Regions from separate parts of the Homo sapiens genome. Here region 1 is linked to region 2. The links come from fine-mapping of genetic effects on gene expression. Tissue or cell type: whole blood. Region 2 holds a variant in brackets; the other region holds the start of a gene. All regions are shown on one strand. Distances are from middle to middle.

Region 1 (6,343 bases), 280 kb before region 2:
GGAATGCAATGGCATGATCTCAGCTCACTGCAACCTCTGTGTCCCAGATTCAAGCGATCCTCCTGCCTCAGGCTCCCAGGTAGCTGGGTTTACAGGTGTGAGCCACCACAACCAGCTAATTTTTGTATTTTTAGTGGAGGTAGGGTTTCACCATGTTGGCCAGGCTGGTCTCAAACTCCTGACCTCAGGTGATCTGCCAGCCCTGGCCTCCCAAAGTGCTGGGATTACAGATGTGAGCCACCACACCCAGCCTGGAAACGAGATTTTTAAAAAGAACAATGTAGGGAGCTTTTTGATCCCTTCTCAAAAAAAAAAAAAAAAAAAAAAAAAAAAAAAAAAAAGAAAGAAATACAAAAGTTAGCAGTAAGAGCTAACACAGCTTACTTACCATGTACCACGCACCATATTAACCACTTATGGAAAGACAACTCATTTAACCTATGTCAAGCACTTAGACTAGTGCCTGGCTCATCTTATTAAATATTAGCCATCATCCCCCCTCCACCAAAATTGCTTACTCATCATCTTTGCTTTTTTGTTGTTGTTGTTAAAACAGGGTCGCACTCTGTTGCTCAGGCTGGAGTGCAGTGGTGTTATCAGGCTGTGAAAGGAAAATCTCTTGGGCCCCCAAAATCACTAAAGAAAACTCAACCTGGGAACCGCTTAGGGCACACCTGCCTCCCATTCTATTCAAAGCCACTACTCTGCTCACTGAGATGGATGCATATCTGATTTGCTTCCTTTGGAAAGGCTCATCAGAAACTCAAAAGAATGTAACCATTTGTGTATCACCTATCTGTGATCCGGAAGCCGCTTCAAGTCTTCCTGCCTTTGCTGCAAGTTGTCCCACCTTTTCAGACCCAACCAATGTACTTCTTACATATACTGACTGATGTATCATGTCTCCCTAATGTATAAAACCAAGCTGTGGGCCGGGCGCAGTGGCTCACGCCTGTAATCCCAGCACTTTGGGAGGCCGCCGAGGCAGGCGGATCACGAGGTCAGGAGTTCGAGACCAGCCTGACCAAAATGGTGAAATTTTGTCTCTACTAAACAATACAAAAATTAGCCGGGTGTGGTGGCGCACGCCTGTAGTCCCAGCTACTAGGGAGGGTGAGGTACGAGAATCGCTCGAACCCACGACGCAGAGGTTGCAGTGAGCCGAGATCTTGCCACTGCACTCCAGCCTGGACGAGAGTGAGACTCTGCCTCAAATAAATAAATAAAAGATTAAACTGTAAGCAAGCAGTTTACTATGAAACTTGCAACCAACTCTACCTGAGAGATAACTGGCAGCCACAGCCTAAGGACTCTCCAGGAAGGATTTTCTGACTCTTACAGACATAAGCCACATAACTCCATCCTCTTATTTCCAATATTTGCCCCGTCCCGAAAAAAAATTAAAGAGTTAACCAACAGTGAGAAGGCCAAATTATTATAATGCTTATAGCACCCTAATTCCAGTTCTCACTTTTACTCAAATTCTTTCGTTAATCAAATCCAGGACTTCACAGGAGGAAACAAAAACAAAGATAAGAGCTTTAACCGTGGAACTAGAAGGCAACACAGAACAAAGAGCTAGATCAACATCTGGCTAATTCTAGAGCCACCATAAAGCAGAGATAAGGTGGCTGATAATCAGGTACCTCGGCCCAAAAGTCCAAGAGGGCACTAAGTGAAGTGCATGAACAACAGGTCATCTAGAAAGCCACGGAAAATGTTAGAAACGGCAGTGTGCGATGAGCGGGAATGCGGCGCAATCTGGACAAGCCTCCAGGGCCAGGGAGGAGACGCGGAAGGACGGAAAGGGTGAAGGATGCACCGCCCAGTGGCTGGAGGAAGTCCAGAAGGAAACCAGGCAGCCCGGGAGGAAAAGAGGAAGCAAGGGGAGGAGGCCTAGAGGCGGCGCGCGGGGAGTAGGCCCCTCTAGGGACGCTCTGGAAGGGTCCTCCCTGTCCCTCCTCCCGGGTGGGGTAGGTGAGGGTGCAGGGCGGCTGGGGGCCGGAAGGGCAGGCAGGCAGCGGCGGGCGCAGTCTGGGGCGCACTCACCCCGGGTCCCTCCCCGACGCGGTAGGTGAGCAGCACCTGGAGGCGCTCGGCGGCGCGGCAGGGCTGCGGGAAGGACACGCACAGGGCCTGGCCATAGTGCGAGAAGGGCTGCGTGTAGAAGCTCACGGGCTCCGCAGGCGGCTCCTCCGAGCCGGGCCGCTCCCGCCGCAGCGCCGCCGCCGTCACCTCCAGGCACGGGTGCGAGTCCAGCCGCAGCTCGGCGGCGCCCTCGGGCTCCAGGCAGCGCAGGTCCAGGACCGCGGTGCCGCTCAGCCCCCGGCTCCCTGCGCCGGGCCCTGGAGGCCCGAACTCAGCCCGCAGGTCCAGGTGCAAGTGCAGCAGCTCAAAGGCCCGGAAGTTGGAGGCCGAGGCCACGTCCACAGCCTGCGCGGAGTGCAGCGGCCGCCGGGCCGCGCCGCTGCCGGGGGAATGCTCGCCGCTCGCCATGGCCGCAGAGCCGTTGCTCACCGGCCGGGCCGCGAACCCGAGGGGAGCCCCGCCCCGAGCGCCGCGGGCCCGCCCCCGCCGCGCGGGCCCCGCCCCCGAAATCTGCTCCCGACCGCATCCCCTCCCTGCGCTTTACCGCCCACTCTTCTAGCTGCACCCGTGCCTCGGGACTTAGGACAAAAGAGGCCGGTGGGATCGTGTGGCCCACGTTTGCCCACCCATATCCTACTGAGGTGTTCCAGTCGTCCCGGTGGGGCACCCTTCTCTGCTGACCCTTCCTGCTGCCTCATCTAGGCAGTGGCGTGGACTGAGCCCTGGCTGGGAAGGTCTGAGTTCCAGATCTCACACCCTGCGATAGGCCAGTTGTTAGAACTGTGTGTCACCTTGGGCAAGTCGCACAAGAAACATGAATCTTCCCGAGCCTTTTTCTGCACCAGTATAATAGAGTCATAATATCTGTGTATCTCACGAAGTAATGTGAGAACTCTACCAGGTAACCTGTCTAACACACTCAGCAAACAGTGAAACCCTGCACAACTTCACGGAATTCACACTGGATCGAGCCTCGTCCCCCAGCAACTCCAGGCACGCCTATCTTTCTATTGTTGGGTTAAGGGACAGGAATCAGCACCGCGCAATTTAAGGCCTGGCTGTCCATCGCATGTCACTTCTATTTCCCTTACTGTATTGTACCGCTTATTGAGCTAGGGTATTCTCCGCTGAATACTTTGTTTCTCTTCTGTACCAGTGGGTTGCAATGGGCCTTCTATGAATAGGAGCTAATCAATGATGATGTTTTTACCGTTCAGCTAGGAAATGAGATTTTTAAAAAGAACAATGTAGGGAGTTTTTCATTAAGGGAAATAGTATTCCGTTCTGTGCTTCCTAGTTTTGTAGAGTTGAAATTATTTTATTTCATGAAATAATGCTTATGGTAGATAATGACTTTAATATTCCATGTAAGTTCAATGTCAGGGTTTTTTGTTTAACTCCAGAAACCTTAGAAACCTGCTTTTCTGTAGCATTGAGAACAGCGCTTGGTACATATTAGACGTTGAATACTCCTATCTTGAAATTATTCAGTCTTCGATGCAATGCACTTTTGCTGAGTATCTGCTAGACACCAGTTGTTAAGCTAAGTGCCTGGGGTACAGTTTGAATAAGTCCGGCACAATTCCTCTTCCTATGGTGTTCATAGCCTAACTCACATTTTAGCAGACGCACAAGAAAACAGGTCACGACACTTCCACGTGCTGCGCTTGATACGGGAAGAAAAGGATGCTGGGGAGCACAACGAAGAGATGCCTAGCCTGATCCTTCTAGTTAAATATTGACAGAGGAAGAGGATGTCATCCTTAGCTAAAGGGTAAAAGATTTTAGGCTGGGTGTGGTGGCTCACGCCTGTAATCCCAACACTTTGGGAAGCTGAGGCAGGAGGATCGCTTGAGCCCAGGAGTTCAAGATGAGGCTACGCAACAGAGGGAGACCCCCTCTCTACAAAAACATTTTAAAAAATTAGCTGGGTGTGGTGATGCACACCTGTGGTCCTGGCTACTCAGAGGATGAGGTAGGGGTATTGCTTGGGCCCAGGAGGTCAAGGCTGCAGTGAACCATGATCATACCACTGCACTCCAGCTGGGGCAACAGAGAAAGACCCTGTCTCAAAAAAAAAAAAAAAAAAGATTTTAGGAATTATATTATTTCCCCTTATAGCCTTACTTCTTCCTGGGAATACCAGGAACCTCATTTCCACTTCCGCCTCCCTGCATGGCTCCCACACTGTCTAGTTTGCCTCAGAACTGGCCTGTAGATGGCCTGTAATAACTTACAGTGGAGAGATTCAGGAATTCAGAGAATTCAGGATTGTAGAAAGGGGACACTGTGGGCACAGCCCACCTCTCCCCCAGTTCATTTTCATTATTTATTATTTATTTGTGAATGCTTAGAATGCAACATATGTTGGACATTTCAAAATAATGGCCACAAATTTTCCATTCCTGATTCTATAGATTTAAAAGTTACAGGGCCGAGTGCAGTGGCTTATGCCTGTAATCCCAGCACTTTGGGAGGCTGAGGCTGGTGAATCATTTGAACTCAGGAGTTCAAGATCAGCCTGGCCAACATTATGAAACACCATCTCTACTAAAAATACAAAAAATTAGCCGGGCAGTAGTGGCACACACCTGTAATCTCAGCTACTCGGGAGGCTGAGGCAGGAGAATTGCTTGAGCCTAGGAGGCAGAGGTTGGAGTGAGCCAACATTGCGCCACTGCACTCCAGCCTGCATGACAGAGTGAGACCCTGTCTCAAAAAAAAAAAAAAAAAACAGTAAAAAGTTACAATAAATTATTAGCAAAAATAAAAATAAAGCTACCTATAGACATGTTTTAGTTAAATTGAAGAAAACCAAGACATAAAGATCTTACAGCAGTGGAAGAAAAGAGACAGATTATCTACAAAAGAATGGCAATTAGAAATTGGACCAAGGTGCCAGGTATGTTGGCTCACACCTATAATCCCAGCACTTTGGGAGGCCAAGGCGGGCGGATCACCTGAGGTTGGGAGTTCGAGACCAGCCTGACCAACATGGAGAAACCCTGTCTCTACTGAAAATACAAAATTAGCCAGGCATGGTGGCGCATGCCTTTAATCCCAGGTACTCCGGAAGCTGAGGCAGGAGAATCACTTGAACCTGGGAGGCGGAGGTTGTGGTGAGCCGAGATCACGCCATTGCACTCCAGCTTCGGCAACAAGAGCAAAACTCCGTCTCAAAATAAGAAATTGGACCAAGGGCAGACCTCTCATTAGCAACATACAAGCTGGAGACATTATCTTCAAAATACTGAGAAAAAAAAGCCAACTGTCAAATTGGAATTGTATACCCAACTAAACTATTATTTGGTCATGTGCAGTGGCTCAAGCCTATAATCCCAGCACTTTAGGAGGCTGAGGCAGGAAGATCTCTTTAGCCAAGGAGTTCCAGACCAGCCTGGGCAACACAGGGAGACCCTGTCTTTATAAAAATAAATAAAATTAAAAATGAACTACTGTTAAAAAGTAAGGGAAAACAGATTTTTAGATAAAAATTGAGAGTATTTACCATCCATAGACTCCTAACGAAGAAATTCTAAAGGAATTCTTTTTTTTTTTTTTTTTGAGATGAAGTCTCGCTCTTGTCCCCCAGGCTGGAGTGCAATGGTGCGATCTCAGCTCACTGCAACCCCCGCCTCCCGGGTTCAAGCAATTCTCCTGCCCCAGCCTCCTGAGTAGCTGGGATTACAGGCGCCTGCCACCATGCCTGGCTAATTTTTGTATTTTAAGTAGAGACGGGGTTTCACCATGTTGGCCAGGCTGGTCTCGAATTCCTGACCTCAGGTGATCCGCCTGCCTCGGCCTCCCAAAGTGCTGGGATTACAGGCGTGAGCCACTGTGCCAGGCCAGGAATTATTTCAAGAAGGAAAGGAATCACTGAAGGAAAGAATGAGATGCAAAAAGGAACAGTGAGCAAAAAAAGTAGATAAATTTAAACAACTGTATAAAACAACACTAATAATATACTAATAATGTTTATGTGAGGGAATCAGGATAAAACTAAAATAACAGACTAAAAGTACATAAGAGAGAGGGGTAACTGAAGTTAAAGCATTTTTTTTTTTAGGTGGACAGAAAGTAGAATTTATTGGTGAGTATTAAGAGGGGGCAGCACAGTGGAAGCCCTCATGAGTGCAGGACCCGCCACTTGTCCAGAGGGCCATGATTGGGAATGTACTTGACCCATCTGGGATGAGCCGCTTCTCAGCCACCATGTCTTCAAATTAATTGGCATTGAACTTGGTGAAGCCCCATT
Region 2 (8,294 bases):
AGCACAGCTCCTTTCCTCCCAGGACTCTGCACTCCTAGGGCTGACATCTTTCCCGCAACCCTAGGCCTCGTGGCCAGGCTGGGAGAACAGCCTGAGTTTGCAGTATCTATGACGGGGAGCCCACCCGGTTCTTGGGGAGAGGGAGCAGGGCCTGGCTTCTGGGATTAACCAACCAGCCTTCGGCACCAGGGAGGTTCTGGGGACCCACAAGCCCCACTTGGCAAGCTCTGATTCAGGGCCAAAGTTTCCAAGAGGCTCCAGCTGGCCTTTCTGCTCCAGTCCCCTGGGGAAATATTAAATAGATCAGGGTTCAGATCTGTGCTCTGAGGCCTCACCTCTGCTCCTCCGCAGTGTTCTTGAGGCTGGGAGCTGCCTGATGAGCTGGGAGGACAGTCACCCCACCCCCTCCACCACACCCAGGCTGACCCTTTCTGGGGAGTGGCAGCCTCTCTCTGCAGCGAGCTGAGGGCAGGCAGTGACCACAGGGCAGCCCCACGCGGATGGCTAGTTCAGGCCACAGCCTGTCACAGGACAGCTCAGCCCTGCTCAGCCGTGTGCAAAAGTGCAGCCTTTGGCAGCAAACTTGGGCCGGGGAGACGAGCTTAAAGTTCCAGGAGAAAGCAATACCTCCACAGCCACTAATATTTAGCAACAAGATCACGTTAGGAAAGGACTTGCCAAGGTCAAGGGTGGTCCATGCGGAGGACTGTGGGACCAGGAGAGGGTGCCTGGCCTCGAGCCCTGTTTGGAAGGAGTGCTAGTTTGCTATCCTGACTTCTCCACCTCAGGAGAAACACCTCCCTGCCCCATTTCCTTGTGAATGTTAGATTATAGGATCAGAATGATAGGTTATAGGATCAGATAGCAGACTCTCGAACATATTCTGTCTTCTCTCATTTAAAGACTTGGACTTCCGGGCTGGGCTCAGAGGGCTGGCCTCCTGCAGAAGGTGGCCTGCCTGTCTCAGCCTGGAGACGTGGCCCTCTGTTCCCCAACAGGCCTTGACTTTCCTGCCCAGTGAACCTCAAGGTTTACTGAAAATGTTTTCCATTAGTGATCCTGCCCAGACCCTTCATGTGACACCCTGCTCCAAAGAAGTCACTGCTGCTGGGAGCTGGGAGTGGTTGTTATGGCAACAGTTTACACAGCAGAGAGAACCATCTGCAGGCAAATGGGGACGGGAGTGGGGAGGGGCTGAGTCCAGGTGTGGATGACAATTGGAGGAGGCCCTGGGGGATTTCTGGTTGTGACACTAGTAAGATTAGTATTGGCTAACTCTTCTACAGGGCTGGGTACCAGGCACTATTCTAGCAGCTTTATGTATATTAGCCCATTTAATCTTCAGGACAACTCTTTGAGAGAGCCCAGTTATTATCCCCATTTTACAGTTGAGAAAAACGGAAGCCTGGGGAGGTTGAGTAAGCTGTCCAAGGACATATAACAGCAAATGGCAAAGCCAGAATTCAAATCCAGATAGTCTGACTCTAGAGCGCATAGTCCAATATTGTCGCCACTAGTCAGAATGGGGAGAGAGAGAGAGAGAGAGAGAGAGAGAGAGAGAGAGAGAGAGAGAGAGAGAGAGAGAGAATTCACATACCAAAATTCACCCTTTTAAAATGTACAGTTCATTTGGGAGCCGACGCTGGTGGATCACTTGAGGTCAGGAATTCAAGACCAGCCTGACCAACATGATGAAACCCCATCTCTACTAAAAATACAAAATGAGCTTGGCATGGTGGTGCACTCCTGTAACCCCAGCTACCTACTTGGGAGGCTGAGGCAGGAAAATCGCTTGAACCTGGGAGGCAGGGGTTGCAGTGAGCTGAGATCGCACCATTGCACTCCAGCCTGGGCAACAAGAGTGAAACTCCATCTCAAAAATAATAATAAAAAAAACAAATAAAATGTACAGTTCAATTGTTTTTAGTATATTTGCACAGTTGTACAACCATCATCACTATCTAATCCAGACTATTTTTATCATTCCAATAAGAAGCCCTGTGGCCATTAGCAGTCACTCCCTGTTCTCCCCTTGCTCCAACTCCTGGCAACCACCAATCTACTTTCTGTCTCTGTGAGTTTGCCTATTCTAGACATTTCATAGAAATGTAATCATGCAATATGTGGCCTTTTGCATCTGGCTTCTTCCACTTAGCACAACGTTCTCAAGGTTCCTCCATGTTGTAGCAAGCATCACTACTTCATTCCTCTTCAGGGCTGAATGATATTCCATTGTATGGATATACCACATTTAGTTTATCTATTCATTTCATAGGCATTTGGGTCATCTCAACTTTTGGCCTAGTATGAATAATGCTGCTATGAAATTCACGTCCATGCCTTTATATGGATGCATGTTTTCATTTCTTTTGAATGTATGCCTATGAGTACAATACTGGGTCCCATGGTAATTTTATAGTTAACATTTTGAGGAACTGCCAGACTGTTTTCCAAAGTGGCTGCTCCATTTCTCATTCCCATCAGCAGTATATGAGAGTTCCAATTTCTCCATATCTTCACTGACACTTGTCATTGTCTCTTTTTGATAGCCATCCAGTGGGTATGAAGTGGTATCTCACTGTAGGTGTCATCTACATTTCCCTAGTGCCTAATGATATTGAGCATCTTTTAGATTTAAGTTAACTAAAATTAATGAAGTTTCAAATTCAGTTGTTGGGTTGCACTAGCCACATTTCAAGTGTTCAATAGCCACATCATTACACCAGCTCGTAGCTACTGCAGCACAGATATAGAAGTTTCCACCACCTTGGAGCACTCTTAGAGCCACTGGAGTTGGTCTGTGCTAATATTACTGGCTCTTTTTCTTTTTCTTTTTTTATTTTTTTTATTATACTTTAAGTTCTAGGGTACATGTGCACAATGTGCAGGTTTGTTACATAGGTATACATGTGCTATGTTGGTTTGTTGCACCCATTAACTTGTCATTTACATTAGGTATTTCTCCTAATGCTATCCCTCCCCCAGCTCCCCACCCCCACAACAGGCCCCCATGTGTGATGTTCCCCACCCTGTGTCCAAGTGTTCTCATTGTTCAATTCCCACCTATGAGTGAGAACATGCAGTGTTTGGTTTTCTGTCCTTGTGATAGTTTGCTCAGAATGATGGTTTCCAGCTTCATCCATGACCCTGCAAAGGACATGAACTCATCCTTTTTTATGGCTGCATAGTATTCCATGGTGTACAAGTGCCACATTTTCTTTTCTTTCTTTTTTTTTTTTTTTTTTTTTTTGAGACAGAGTCTCACTCTGTCCCCAGGCTGGAGTGCAGTGGCAGGATCTCGGCTCACTACAAGCTCTGCCTCCCGGGTTCACATCATTCTCCTGCCTCAGCCTCCCGAGTAGCTGGGACTACAGGCGCCTGCCACCACGCCTGGCTAATTTTTTGTATTTTTATTAGAGACGGGGTTTCACCATGTTAGCCAGGATGGTCTCGATCTCCTGACCTCGTGATCCACCCGCCTCGGCCTCCCAAAGTGCTGGGATTACAGGCGTGAGCCATTGCGCCCGGCAATGTGCTACATTTTCTTAATCCAGTCTATCATTGATGGACATTTGGGTTGGTTCCAAGTCTTTGCTATTGTGAATAGTGCCACAATAAACATATGTGTGCATGTGTCTTTATAGTAGCATGATTTATAATCCTTTGGGTATATACTTAGTAATGGAATCGCTGGGTCAAATGGTATTTCTCGTTCTAGATCCTTGGAATTGCCACACTATCTTCCACAATGGCTGAACTAGTTTACACTCCCACCAACAGTGTAAAAGCGTTCCTATTTCTCCACATCCTCTCCAGCACCTGTTGTTTCCTGACTTTTTAATGATCGCCATTCTAACTGCCGTGAGATGGTATCTCGTTGTGGTTTTGATTTGCATTTCTCTGATGACCCAGTGATGATGAGCATTTTTTCATGTGTCTGTTGGGTGCATAAATGTCTTCTTTCGAGAAGTGTCTGTTCATATCCTTTGCCCACTTTTGATGGGGTTGTTTGTTTATTCTTGTAAATTTAAATTCTTTGTAGATTCTGGATATTAGCCCTTTGTCAGATGGGTAGATTGCAAAAATTTTCTCCCTTTCTGTAGGTTGCCTGTTCACTCTGATGGTGGTTTCTTTTGCTGTGCAGAAGCTCTTTAGCTTAATTAGATCCCATTTGTCTATTTTGGCTTTTGTTGCCATTGCTTTTGGTGTTTTAGTCATGAAGTTCTTGCCCATGCCTATGTCCTGAATGGTATTGCCTAGGTTTTCTTCTAGGGTTTTTATGGTTTTAGGTCTAACATGTAAGTCTTTAATCCATCTTGAATTAATTTTTGTATAAG[G/T]TGTAAGGAAGGGATCCAGTTTCAGCTTTCTACATATGGCTAGCCAGTTTTCCCAGCATCATTTATTACACAGGGAATCCTTTCCCCATTTCTTGTTTTTGTCACATTTGTCAAAGATCAGGTGGTTGTAGATGTGTGGTGTTATTTTTGAGGCCTCTGTTCTGTTCCATTGGTCTACATCTCTGTTTTGGTACCAGCACCATGCTGTTTTGGTTACTGTAGCCTTGTAGTATGGTTTGAAGTCAGGTAGCATGATGCCTCCAGCTTTGTTCTTTTGGCTTAGGATTGTCTTGGCAATGTGGGCTCTTTTTTGGTTCTATATGAACTTTAAAGTAGTTTTTTCCAATTCTGCGAAGAAAGTCATTGGTAGCTTGGTGGGGATGGCATTGAATCTATAAATTACCTTGGGCAGTATGGCCATTTTCAGGATATTGATTCTTCCTATCCATGAGCATGGAATGTTCTTCCATTTGTTTGTATCCTCTTTTATTTCATTGAGCAGTGGTTTGTAGTTCTCCTTGAAGAGGTCCTTCACATCCCTTGTAAGTTGGATTCCTAGGTATTTTATTCTCTTTGAAGCAATTGTGAATGGGAGTTCACTCATGATTTGGCTCTCTGTTTGTCTGTTATTGGTGTATAGGAATGCTTGTGATTTTTGCACATTGATTTTGTATCCTGAGACTTTGCTGAAGTTGCTTATCAGCTTAAGGAGATTTTGGGCTGAGATGATGGGGTTTTCTAAATATACAATCATGTCATCTGCAAACAGGGGCAATTTGACTTCCTCTTTTCCTAATTGAATACCCTTTATTTATTTCTCTTGCCTGATTGCCCTGGCCAGAACTTCCAACACTATGTTGAATAGGAGCGGTGAGAGAGGGCATCCCTGTCTTGTGCCATCACTGGCTCTTCTTCTATAAAGTGTTTGCCTTTGGCGCACTTTCAAGTTCATTTTACAGAGCGGGCCCGTCTTCAGGTTTCTGGGGCCCTGCCACTGAGGCCCAGAATGAGTTAGACAGAGACTTGCCAGATGATATATATTTGAGTTAGCGGCAGAAGAGAACCAGTAGCAAAGGTAAGGGCAGGCTTTTGTCATTTGACTTCACCCACCTGCCCACTCCCACTCCTGTGCAGCCCTCCACCCCCAGGCCTGTCCCTAAATCCCTGACATCACTTCCTTTCGCAGAACCTACCAGTGGCCAAGTGACAAAAGGCACCTTATCTGAAGATGCCACTGTTGTGATGGGAGTAGTTCTGCCTATCACACTCCTGCCTGCACCAGAACTCAAGGGGTCAGGTCTCCTGGCTACAGACCTTTCCTGAGTTCTCCAAACCAGGCCTTTGCAGTCTTCTATGTAGGATGTGAATCCCACGTGATTCCCTTGGAAGTGGCTGCATTTCAAATGGGAGACACATCAAATGAGTGAACATCACCGCCTCTGAAGCACTGATTATCCACCAGATCATGCCGGGCTGTGCCCTGACCAGCAGCCACTGGCTTCCACTTAGCCACTGTCTTGAGGGTTCTGAGTCCACCCATACAATAGGGGCTGCCCTCAGGGAGCTTGCAGCCAAGAGGTTGGCATGTGCAGCTGTGGTCAGGCATCATCCGTGCATGGGGGCCAGAGCTTCTGTTGGGGACTGACTAGAAAAGTGATAAGGTGGGTGGGTTAGAGGAGTCACAGGGGAGGTCCTGGAAGAGGTGACCACTGATCTGAAACCAAAGGAAGGGAAAGAATGAATCTGACCACAGGCAACAGGGCAAGTCTCAGGTTCAGGAAGGATACAGCCTATGCAAAGGCTGAGCCACAAGAGAGGAAGGACTGGCTCTGGGCATCAGACGACGAGAGGCCACAGGACACGGAGCTAGAGAGTCTTTGTCAAATCCCAGCTTTACCACTGTGACCTTGGGCAAGGTATTCAATGCCCTGTGACCTTGGGCAAGGTATTCAATGTCTGGGCCTCAGTTCTCTCACCTATAAAATGAAATAACAGCTGAGCTGTTGTTTAGATTTCATGTCTTTCTCCTCCTGAAGGGCAGAGACCTGGCATATTCATTCCAAATCCCATTCTGACACCTCAAACACAGTGGGTGCTCCACACATTGTTTTAAAGTGACACCGTAGGAGAAGAGGTGTGGTTTGGGGATGGGAATGGGATGGAATGGGAGACAAAGCAGATATGGCAGGGTGACTGGGCTGCTGGCATAAGGTCTGGCCAGCCTGTGTATGGACCAGTATAGACAGCCCTGCTGCAAGCCCAGAAGAGGCTGAATGTTAAAACTCATCAAAAGTCAGAGCTGGCACAAGCCTCAGAGGTCATTTCACAGATGAGGAGACTGAGGCGCACTGGAATAGCAGTGACTTGCTCAAGACGACACAGCCTGCTGATCTCAGAGCCAGGCTTGAGGATAAAGAGGAAAAGGTTGAGCTTTGAGGAGGATTATGAGAGAGAAAGCTGGGGGCAAGGTATGAGCAAGGTAGGGCTGCCCAGAAGGCGATGCTCCCTCTGCCGTTCACACCTCCCTCTTCCCCTGCCCCACTTCAGCCTGCACAGCATCTGCTCCTCCATCAAAAAGCTGACATCCACCCTGCCTGGCTGCCTCCCTGGAGGGTTCTTATTTCTGGAAAAGCCTGCTGTGTCACTGATCCCTTCACCCCTCTACTGCCCACCACTGGGGACCCTGTGACTCGGCCCATCTGCCACCAACATGCCCCCCCATTTCCAGGATGGTTCCACTGCTCACCAAAAGGACTCGGCTTAGACTAAGGCCCCGGAACTCCCTCCAGGGCTTGGGTATCAATTGAAACAAGAAGGAGCTAGGTTAGCTTTAAGGGAGACTTCCAATTAAGAAGGCAGAGAATTCCTACAGTGAGACTTAATAAGATGTGCTGAAGAGTTTTTGCATTTAAAAAAATTTTTTGTTTAGTGAGCATCAGAAGGTGAGAAAAGCAGGCAATGTTCTGAGGCAAGAAGGGAAGGAAAAGGAAAAAAGACAGTATTTCCCGAGTGTGCGCCAGGCATGGTGCGAAACACGAATATGTATTCTGTCCTTGCAATGCAGCGGCTGAGGTAAGTATGAGTACTCCGATTTTATAGATGTTTGGCTCAGAGAGGTCAGTTAACTTCCTAAGGTCACACGGCTTGTAGGGTAGGGATCTGAATCCCAGTCTTCTCTGAAGTCCGTGCTTTTTCCAAAATGAATGATACATGACCAAAAAGACAACAGAGGCGGACGCCAGGAGGCCCTTCCTGACTCATGCTGGAATCACGCTCCTCACAGCTCACAGAATGAAGCCTGTCCTCCACTGCAGGCAATGAATGAGATACAGAACTGCCAGAAGACAGGGAGTCATGGGCCACCAGCCAGGCCAAGCATTTCTCCACCTCCAAGACATCGGGCTGCCAGCCAGTCCAGGCCTCACTGGCAGTCACTGCTCCTGTCCAATGCTTCCTCGAGGGAGCCCTTTCTCCTCACTGGGCTTTGTCCCAGCTCTGAAACCTGTAAAGCTTCTGGCCTCGGAAGAACCTTCCTAGAGCGTCTGGCAGGCAGGTTGTGTCGCCTGCTTGCCAAGATCCATGGCTGCTCTCGACTGCCTAATCAGATCATTCAGAATCCTCCTCTTCCGCCCGATTCCAATGCAGGAGCCTGGGAACCAGCTGCAGCCAAAAGCAGAGCTTCAGGGCCACTCCCTCTCCCGCTCCCACCCTCTCCTGCTCCCATCCTCTCCCAACCCCACCCTCTCCTTCATGGGTAACACATGTGTGGGACTGGAGGCTCCCACTCCCACTCCCTGAGTCTGCCCTGTCCCCACTACCTGGCCCCCATGTATCTGGAAGGGAAGTGCAAGGCTGGATGCAGAGACCCCTGGATTCCAGTCCCCGCTTCTTCCGATGCCCAGGAGCAAGCCGCTCAGCCTTTGTGGGCTTCAGTTTCTCCTTCTTAGAGAAGGAATC

The links. PIP is the estimated chance that this variant, and not a neighbour inherited with it, causes the effect.
Region 1: RNPEP starts here. The variant in region 2 is fine-mapped to the expression of RNPEP in whole blood (INTERVAL, PIP above 0.99).

What each region holds. Positions count from the first base shown.
Region 1 is chr1:201,978,820-201,985,162 of GRCh38, reverse strand. It overlaps RNPEP (arginyl aminopeptidase), which reads right to left and starts at 2,515. Exons shown (of 11, transcript NM_020216.4): 1 at 2,050-2,515. The coding sequence starts at 2,496. It also overlaps the pseudogene RPL10P4. RefSeq lists a silencer at 1,930-2,609 and an enhancer at 2,820-2,879.
Region 2 is chr1:201,695,966-201,704,259 of GRCh38, reverse strand. The region is part of intron 5 of NAV1 (neuron navigator 1); the gene reads right to left. All of the region lies in intron 2 of IPO9-AS1 (IPO9 antisense RNA 1), which reads left to right. Among named protein-coding and RNA genes, the nearest start is that of MIR5191, 19 kb to the left of the region's middle. RefSeq lists an enhancer at 326-898. The variant G/T (reference allele first, on the strand shown) is at 4,338.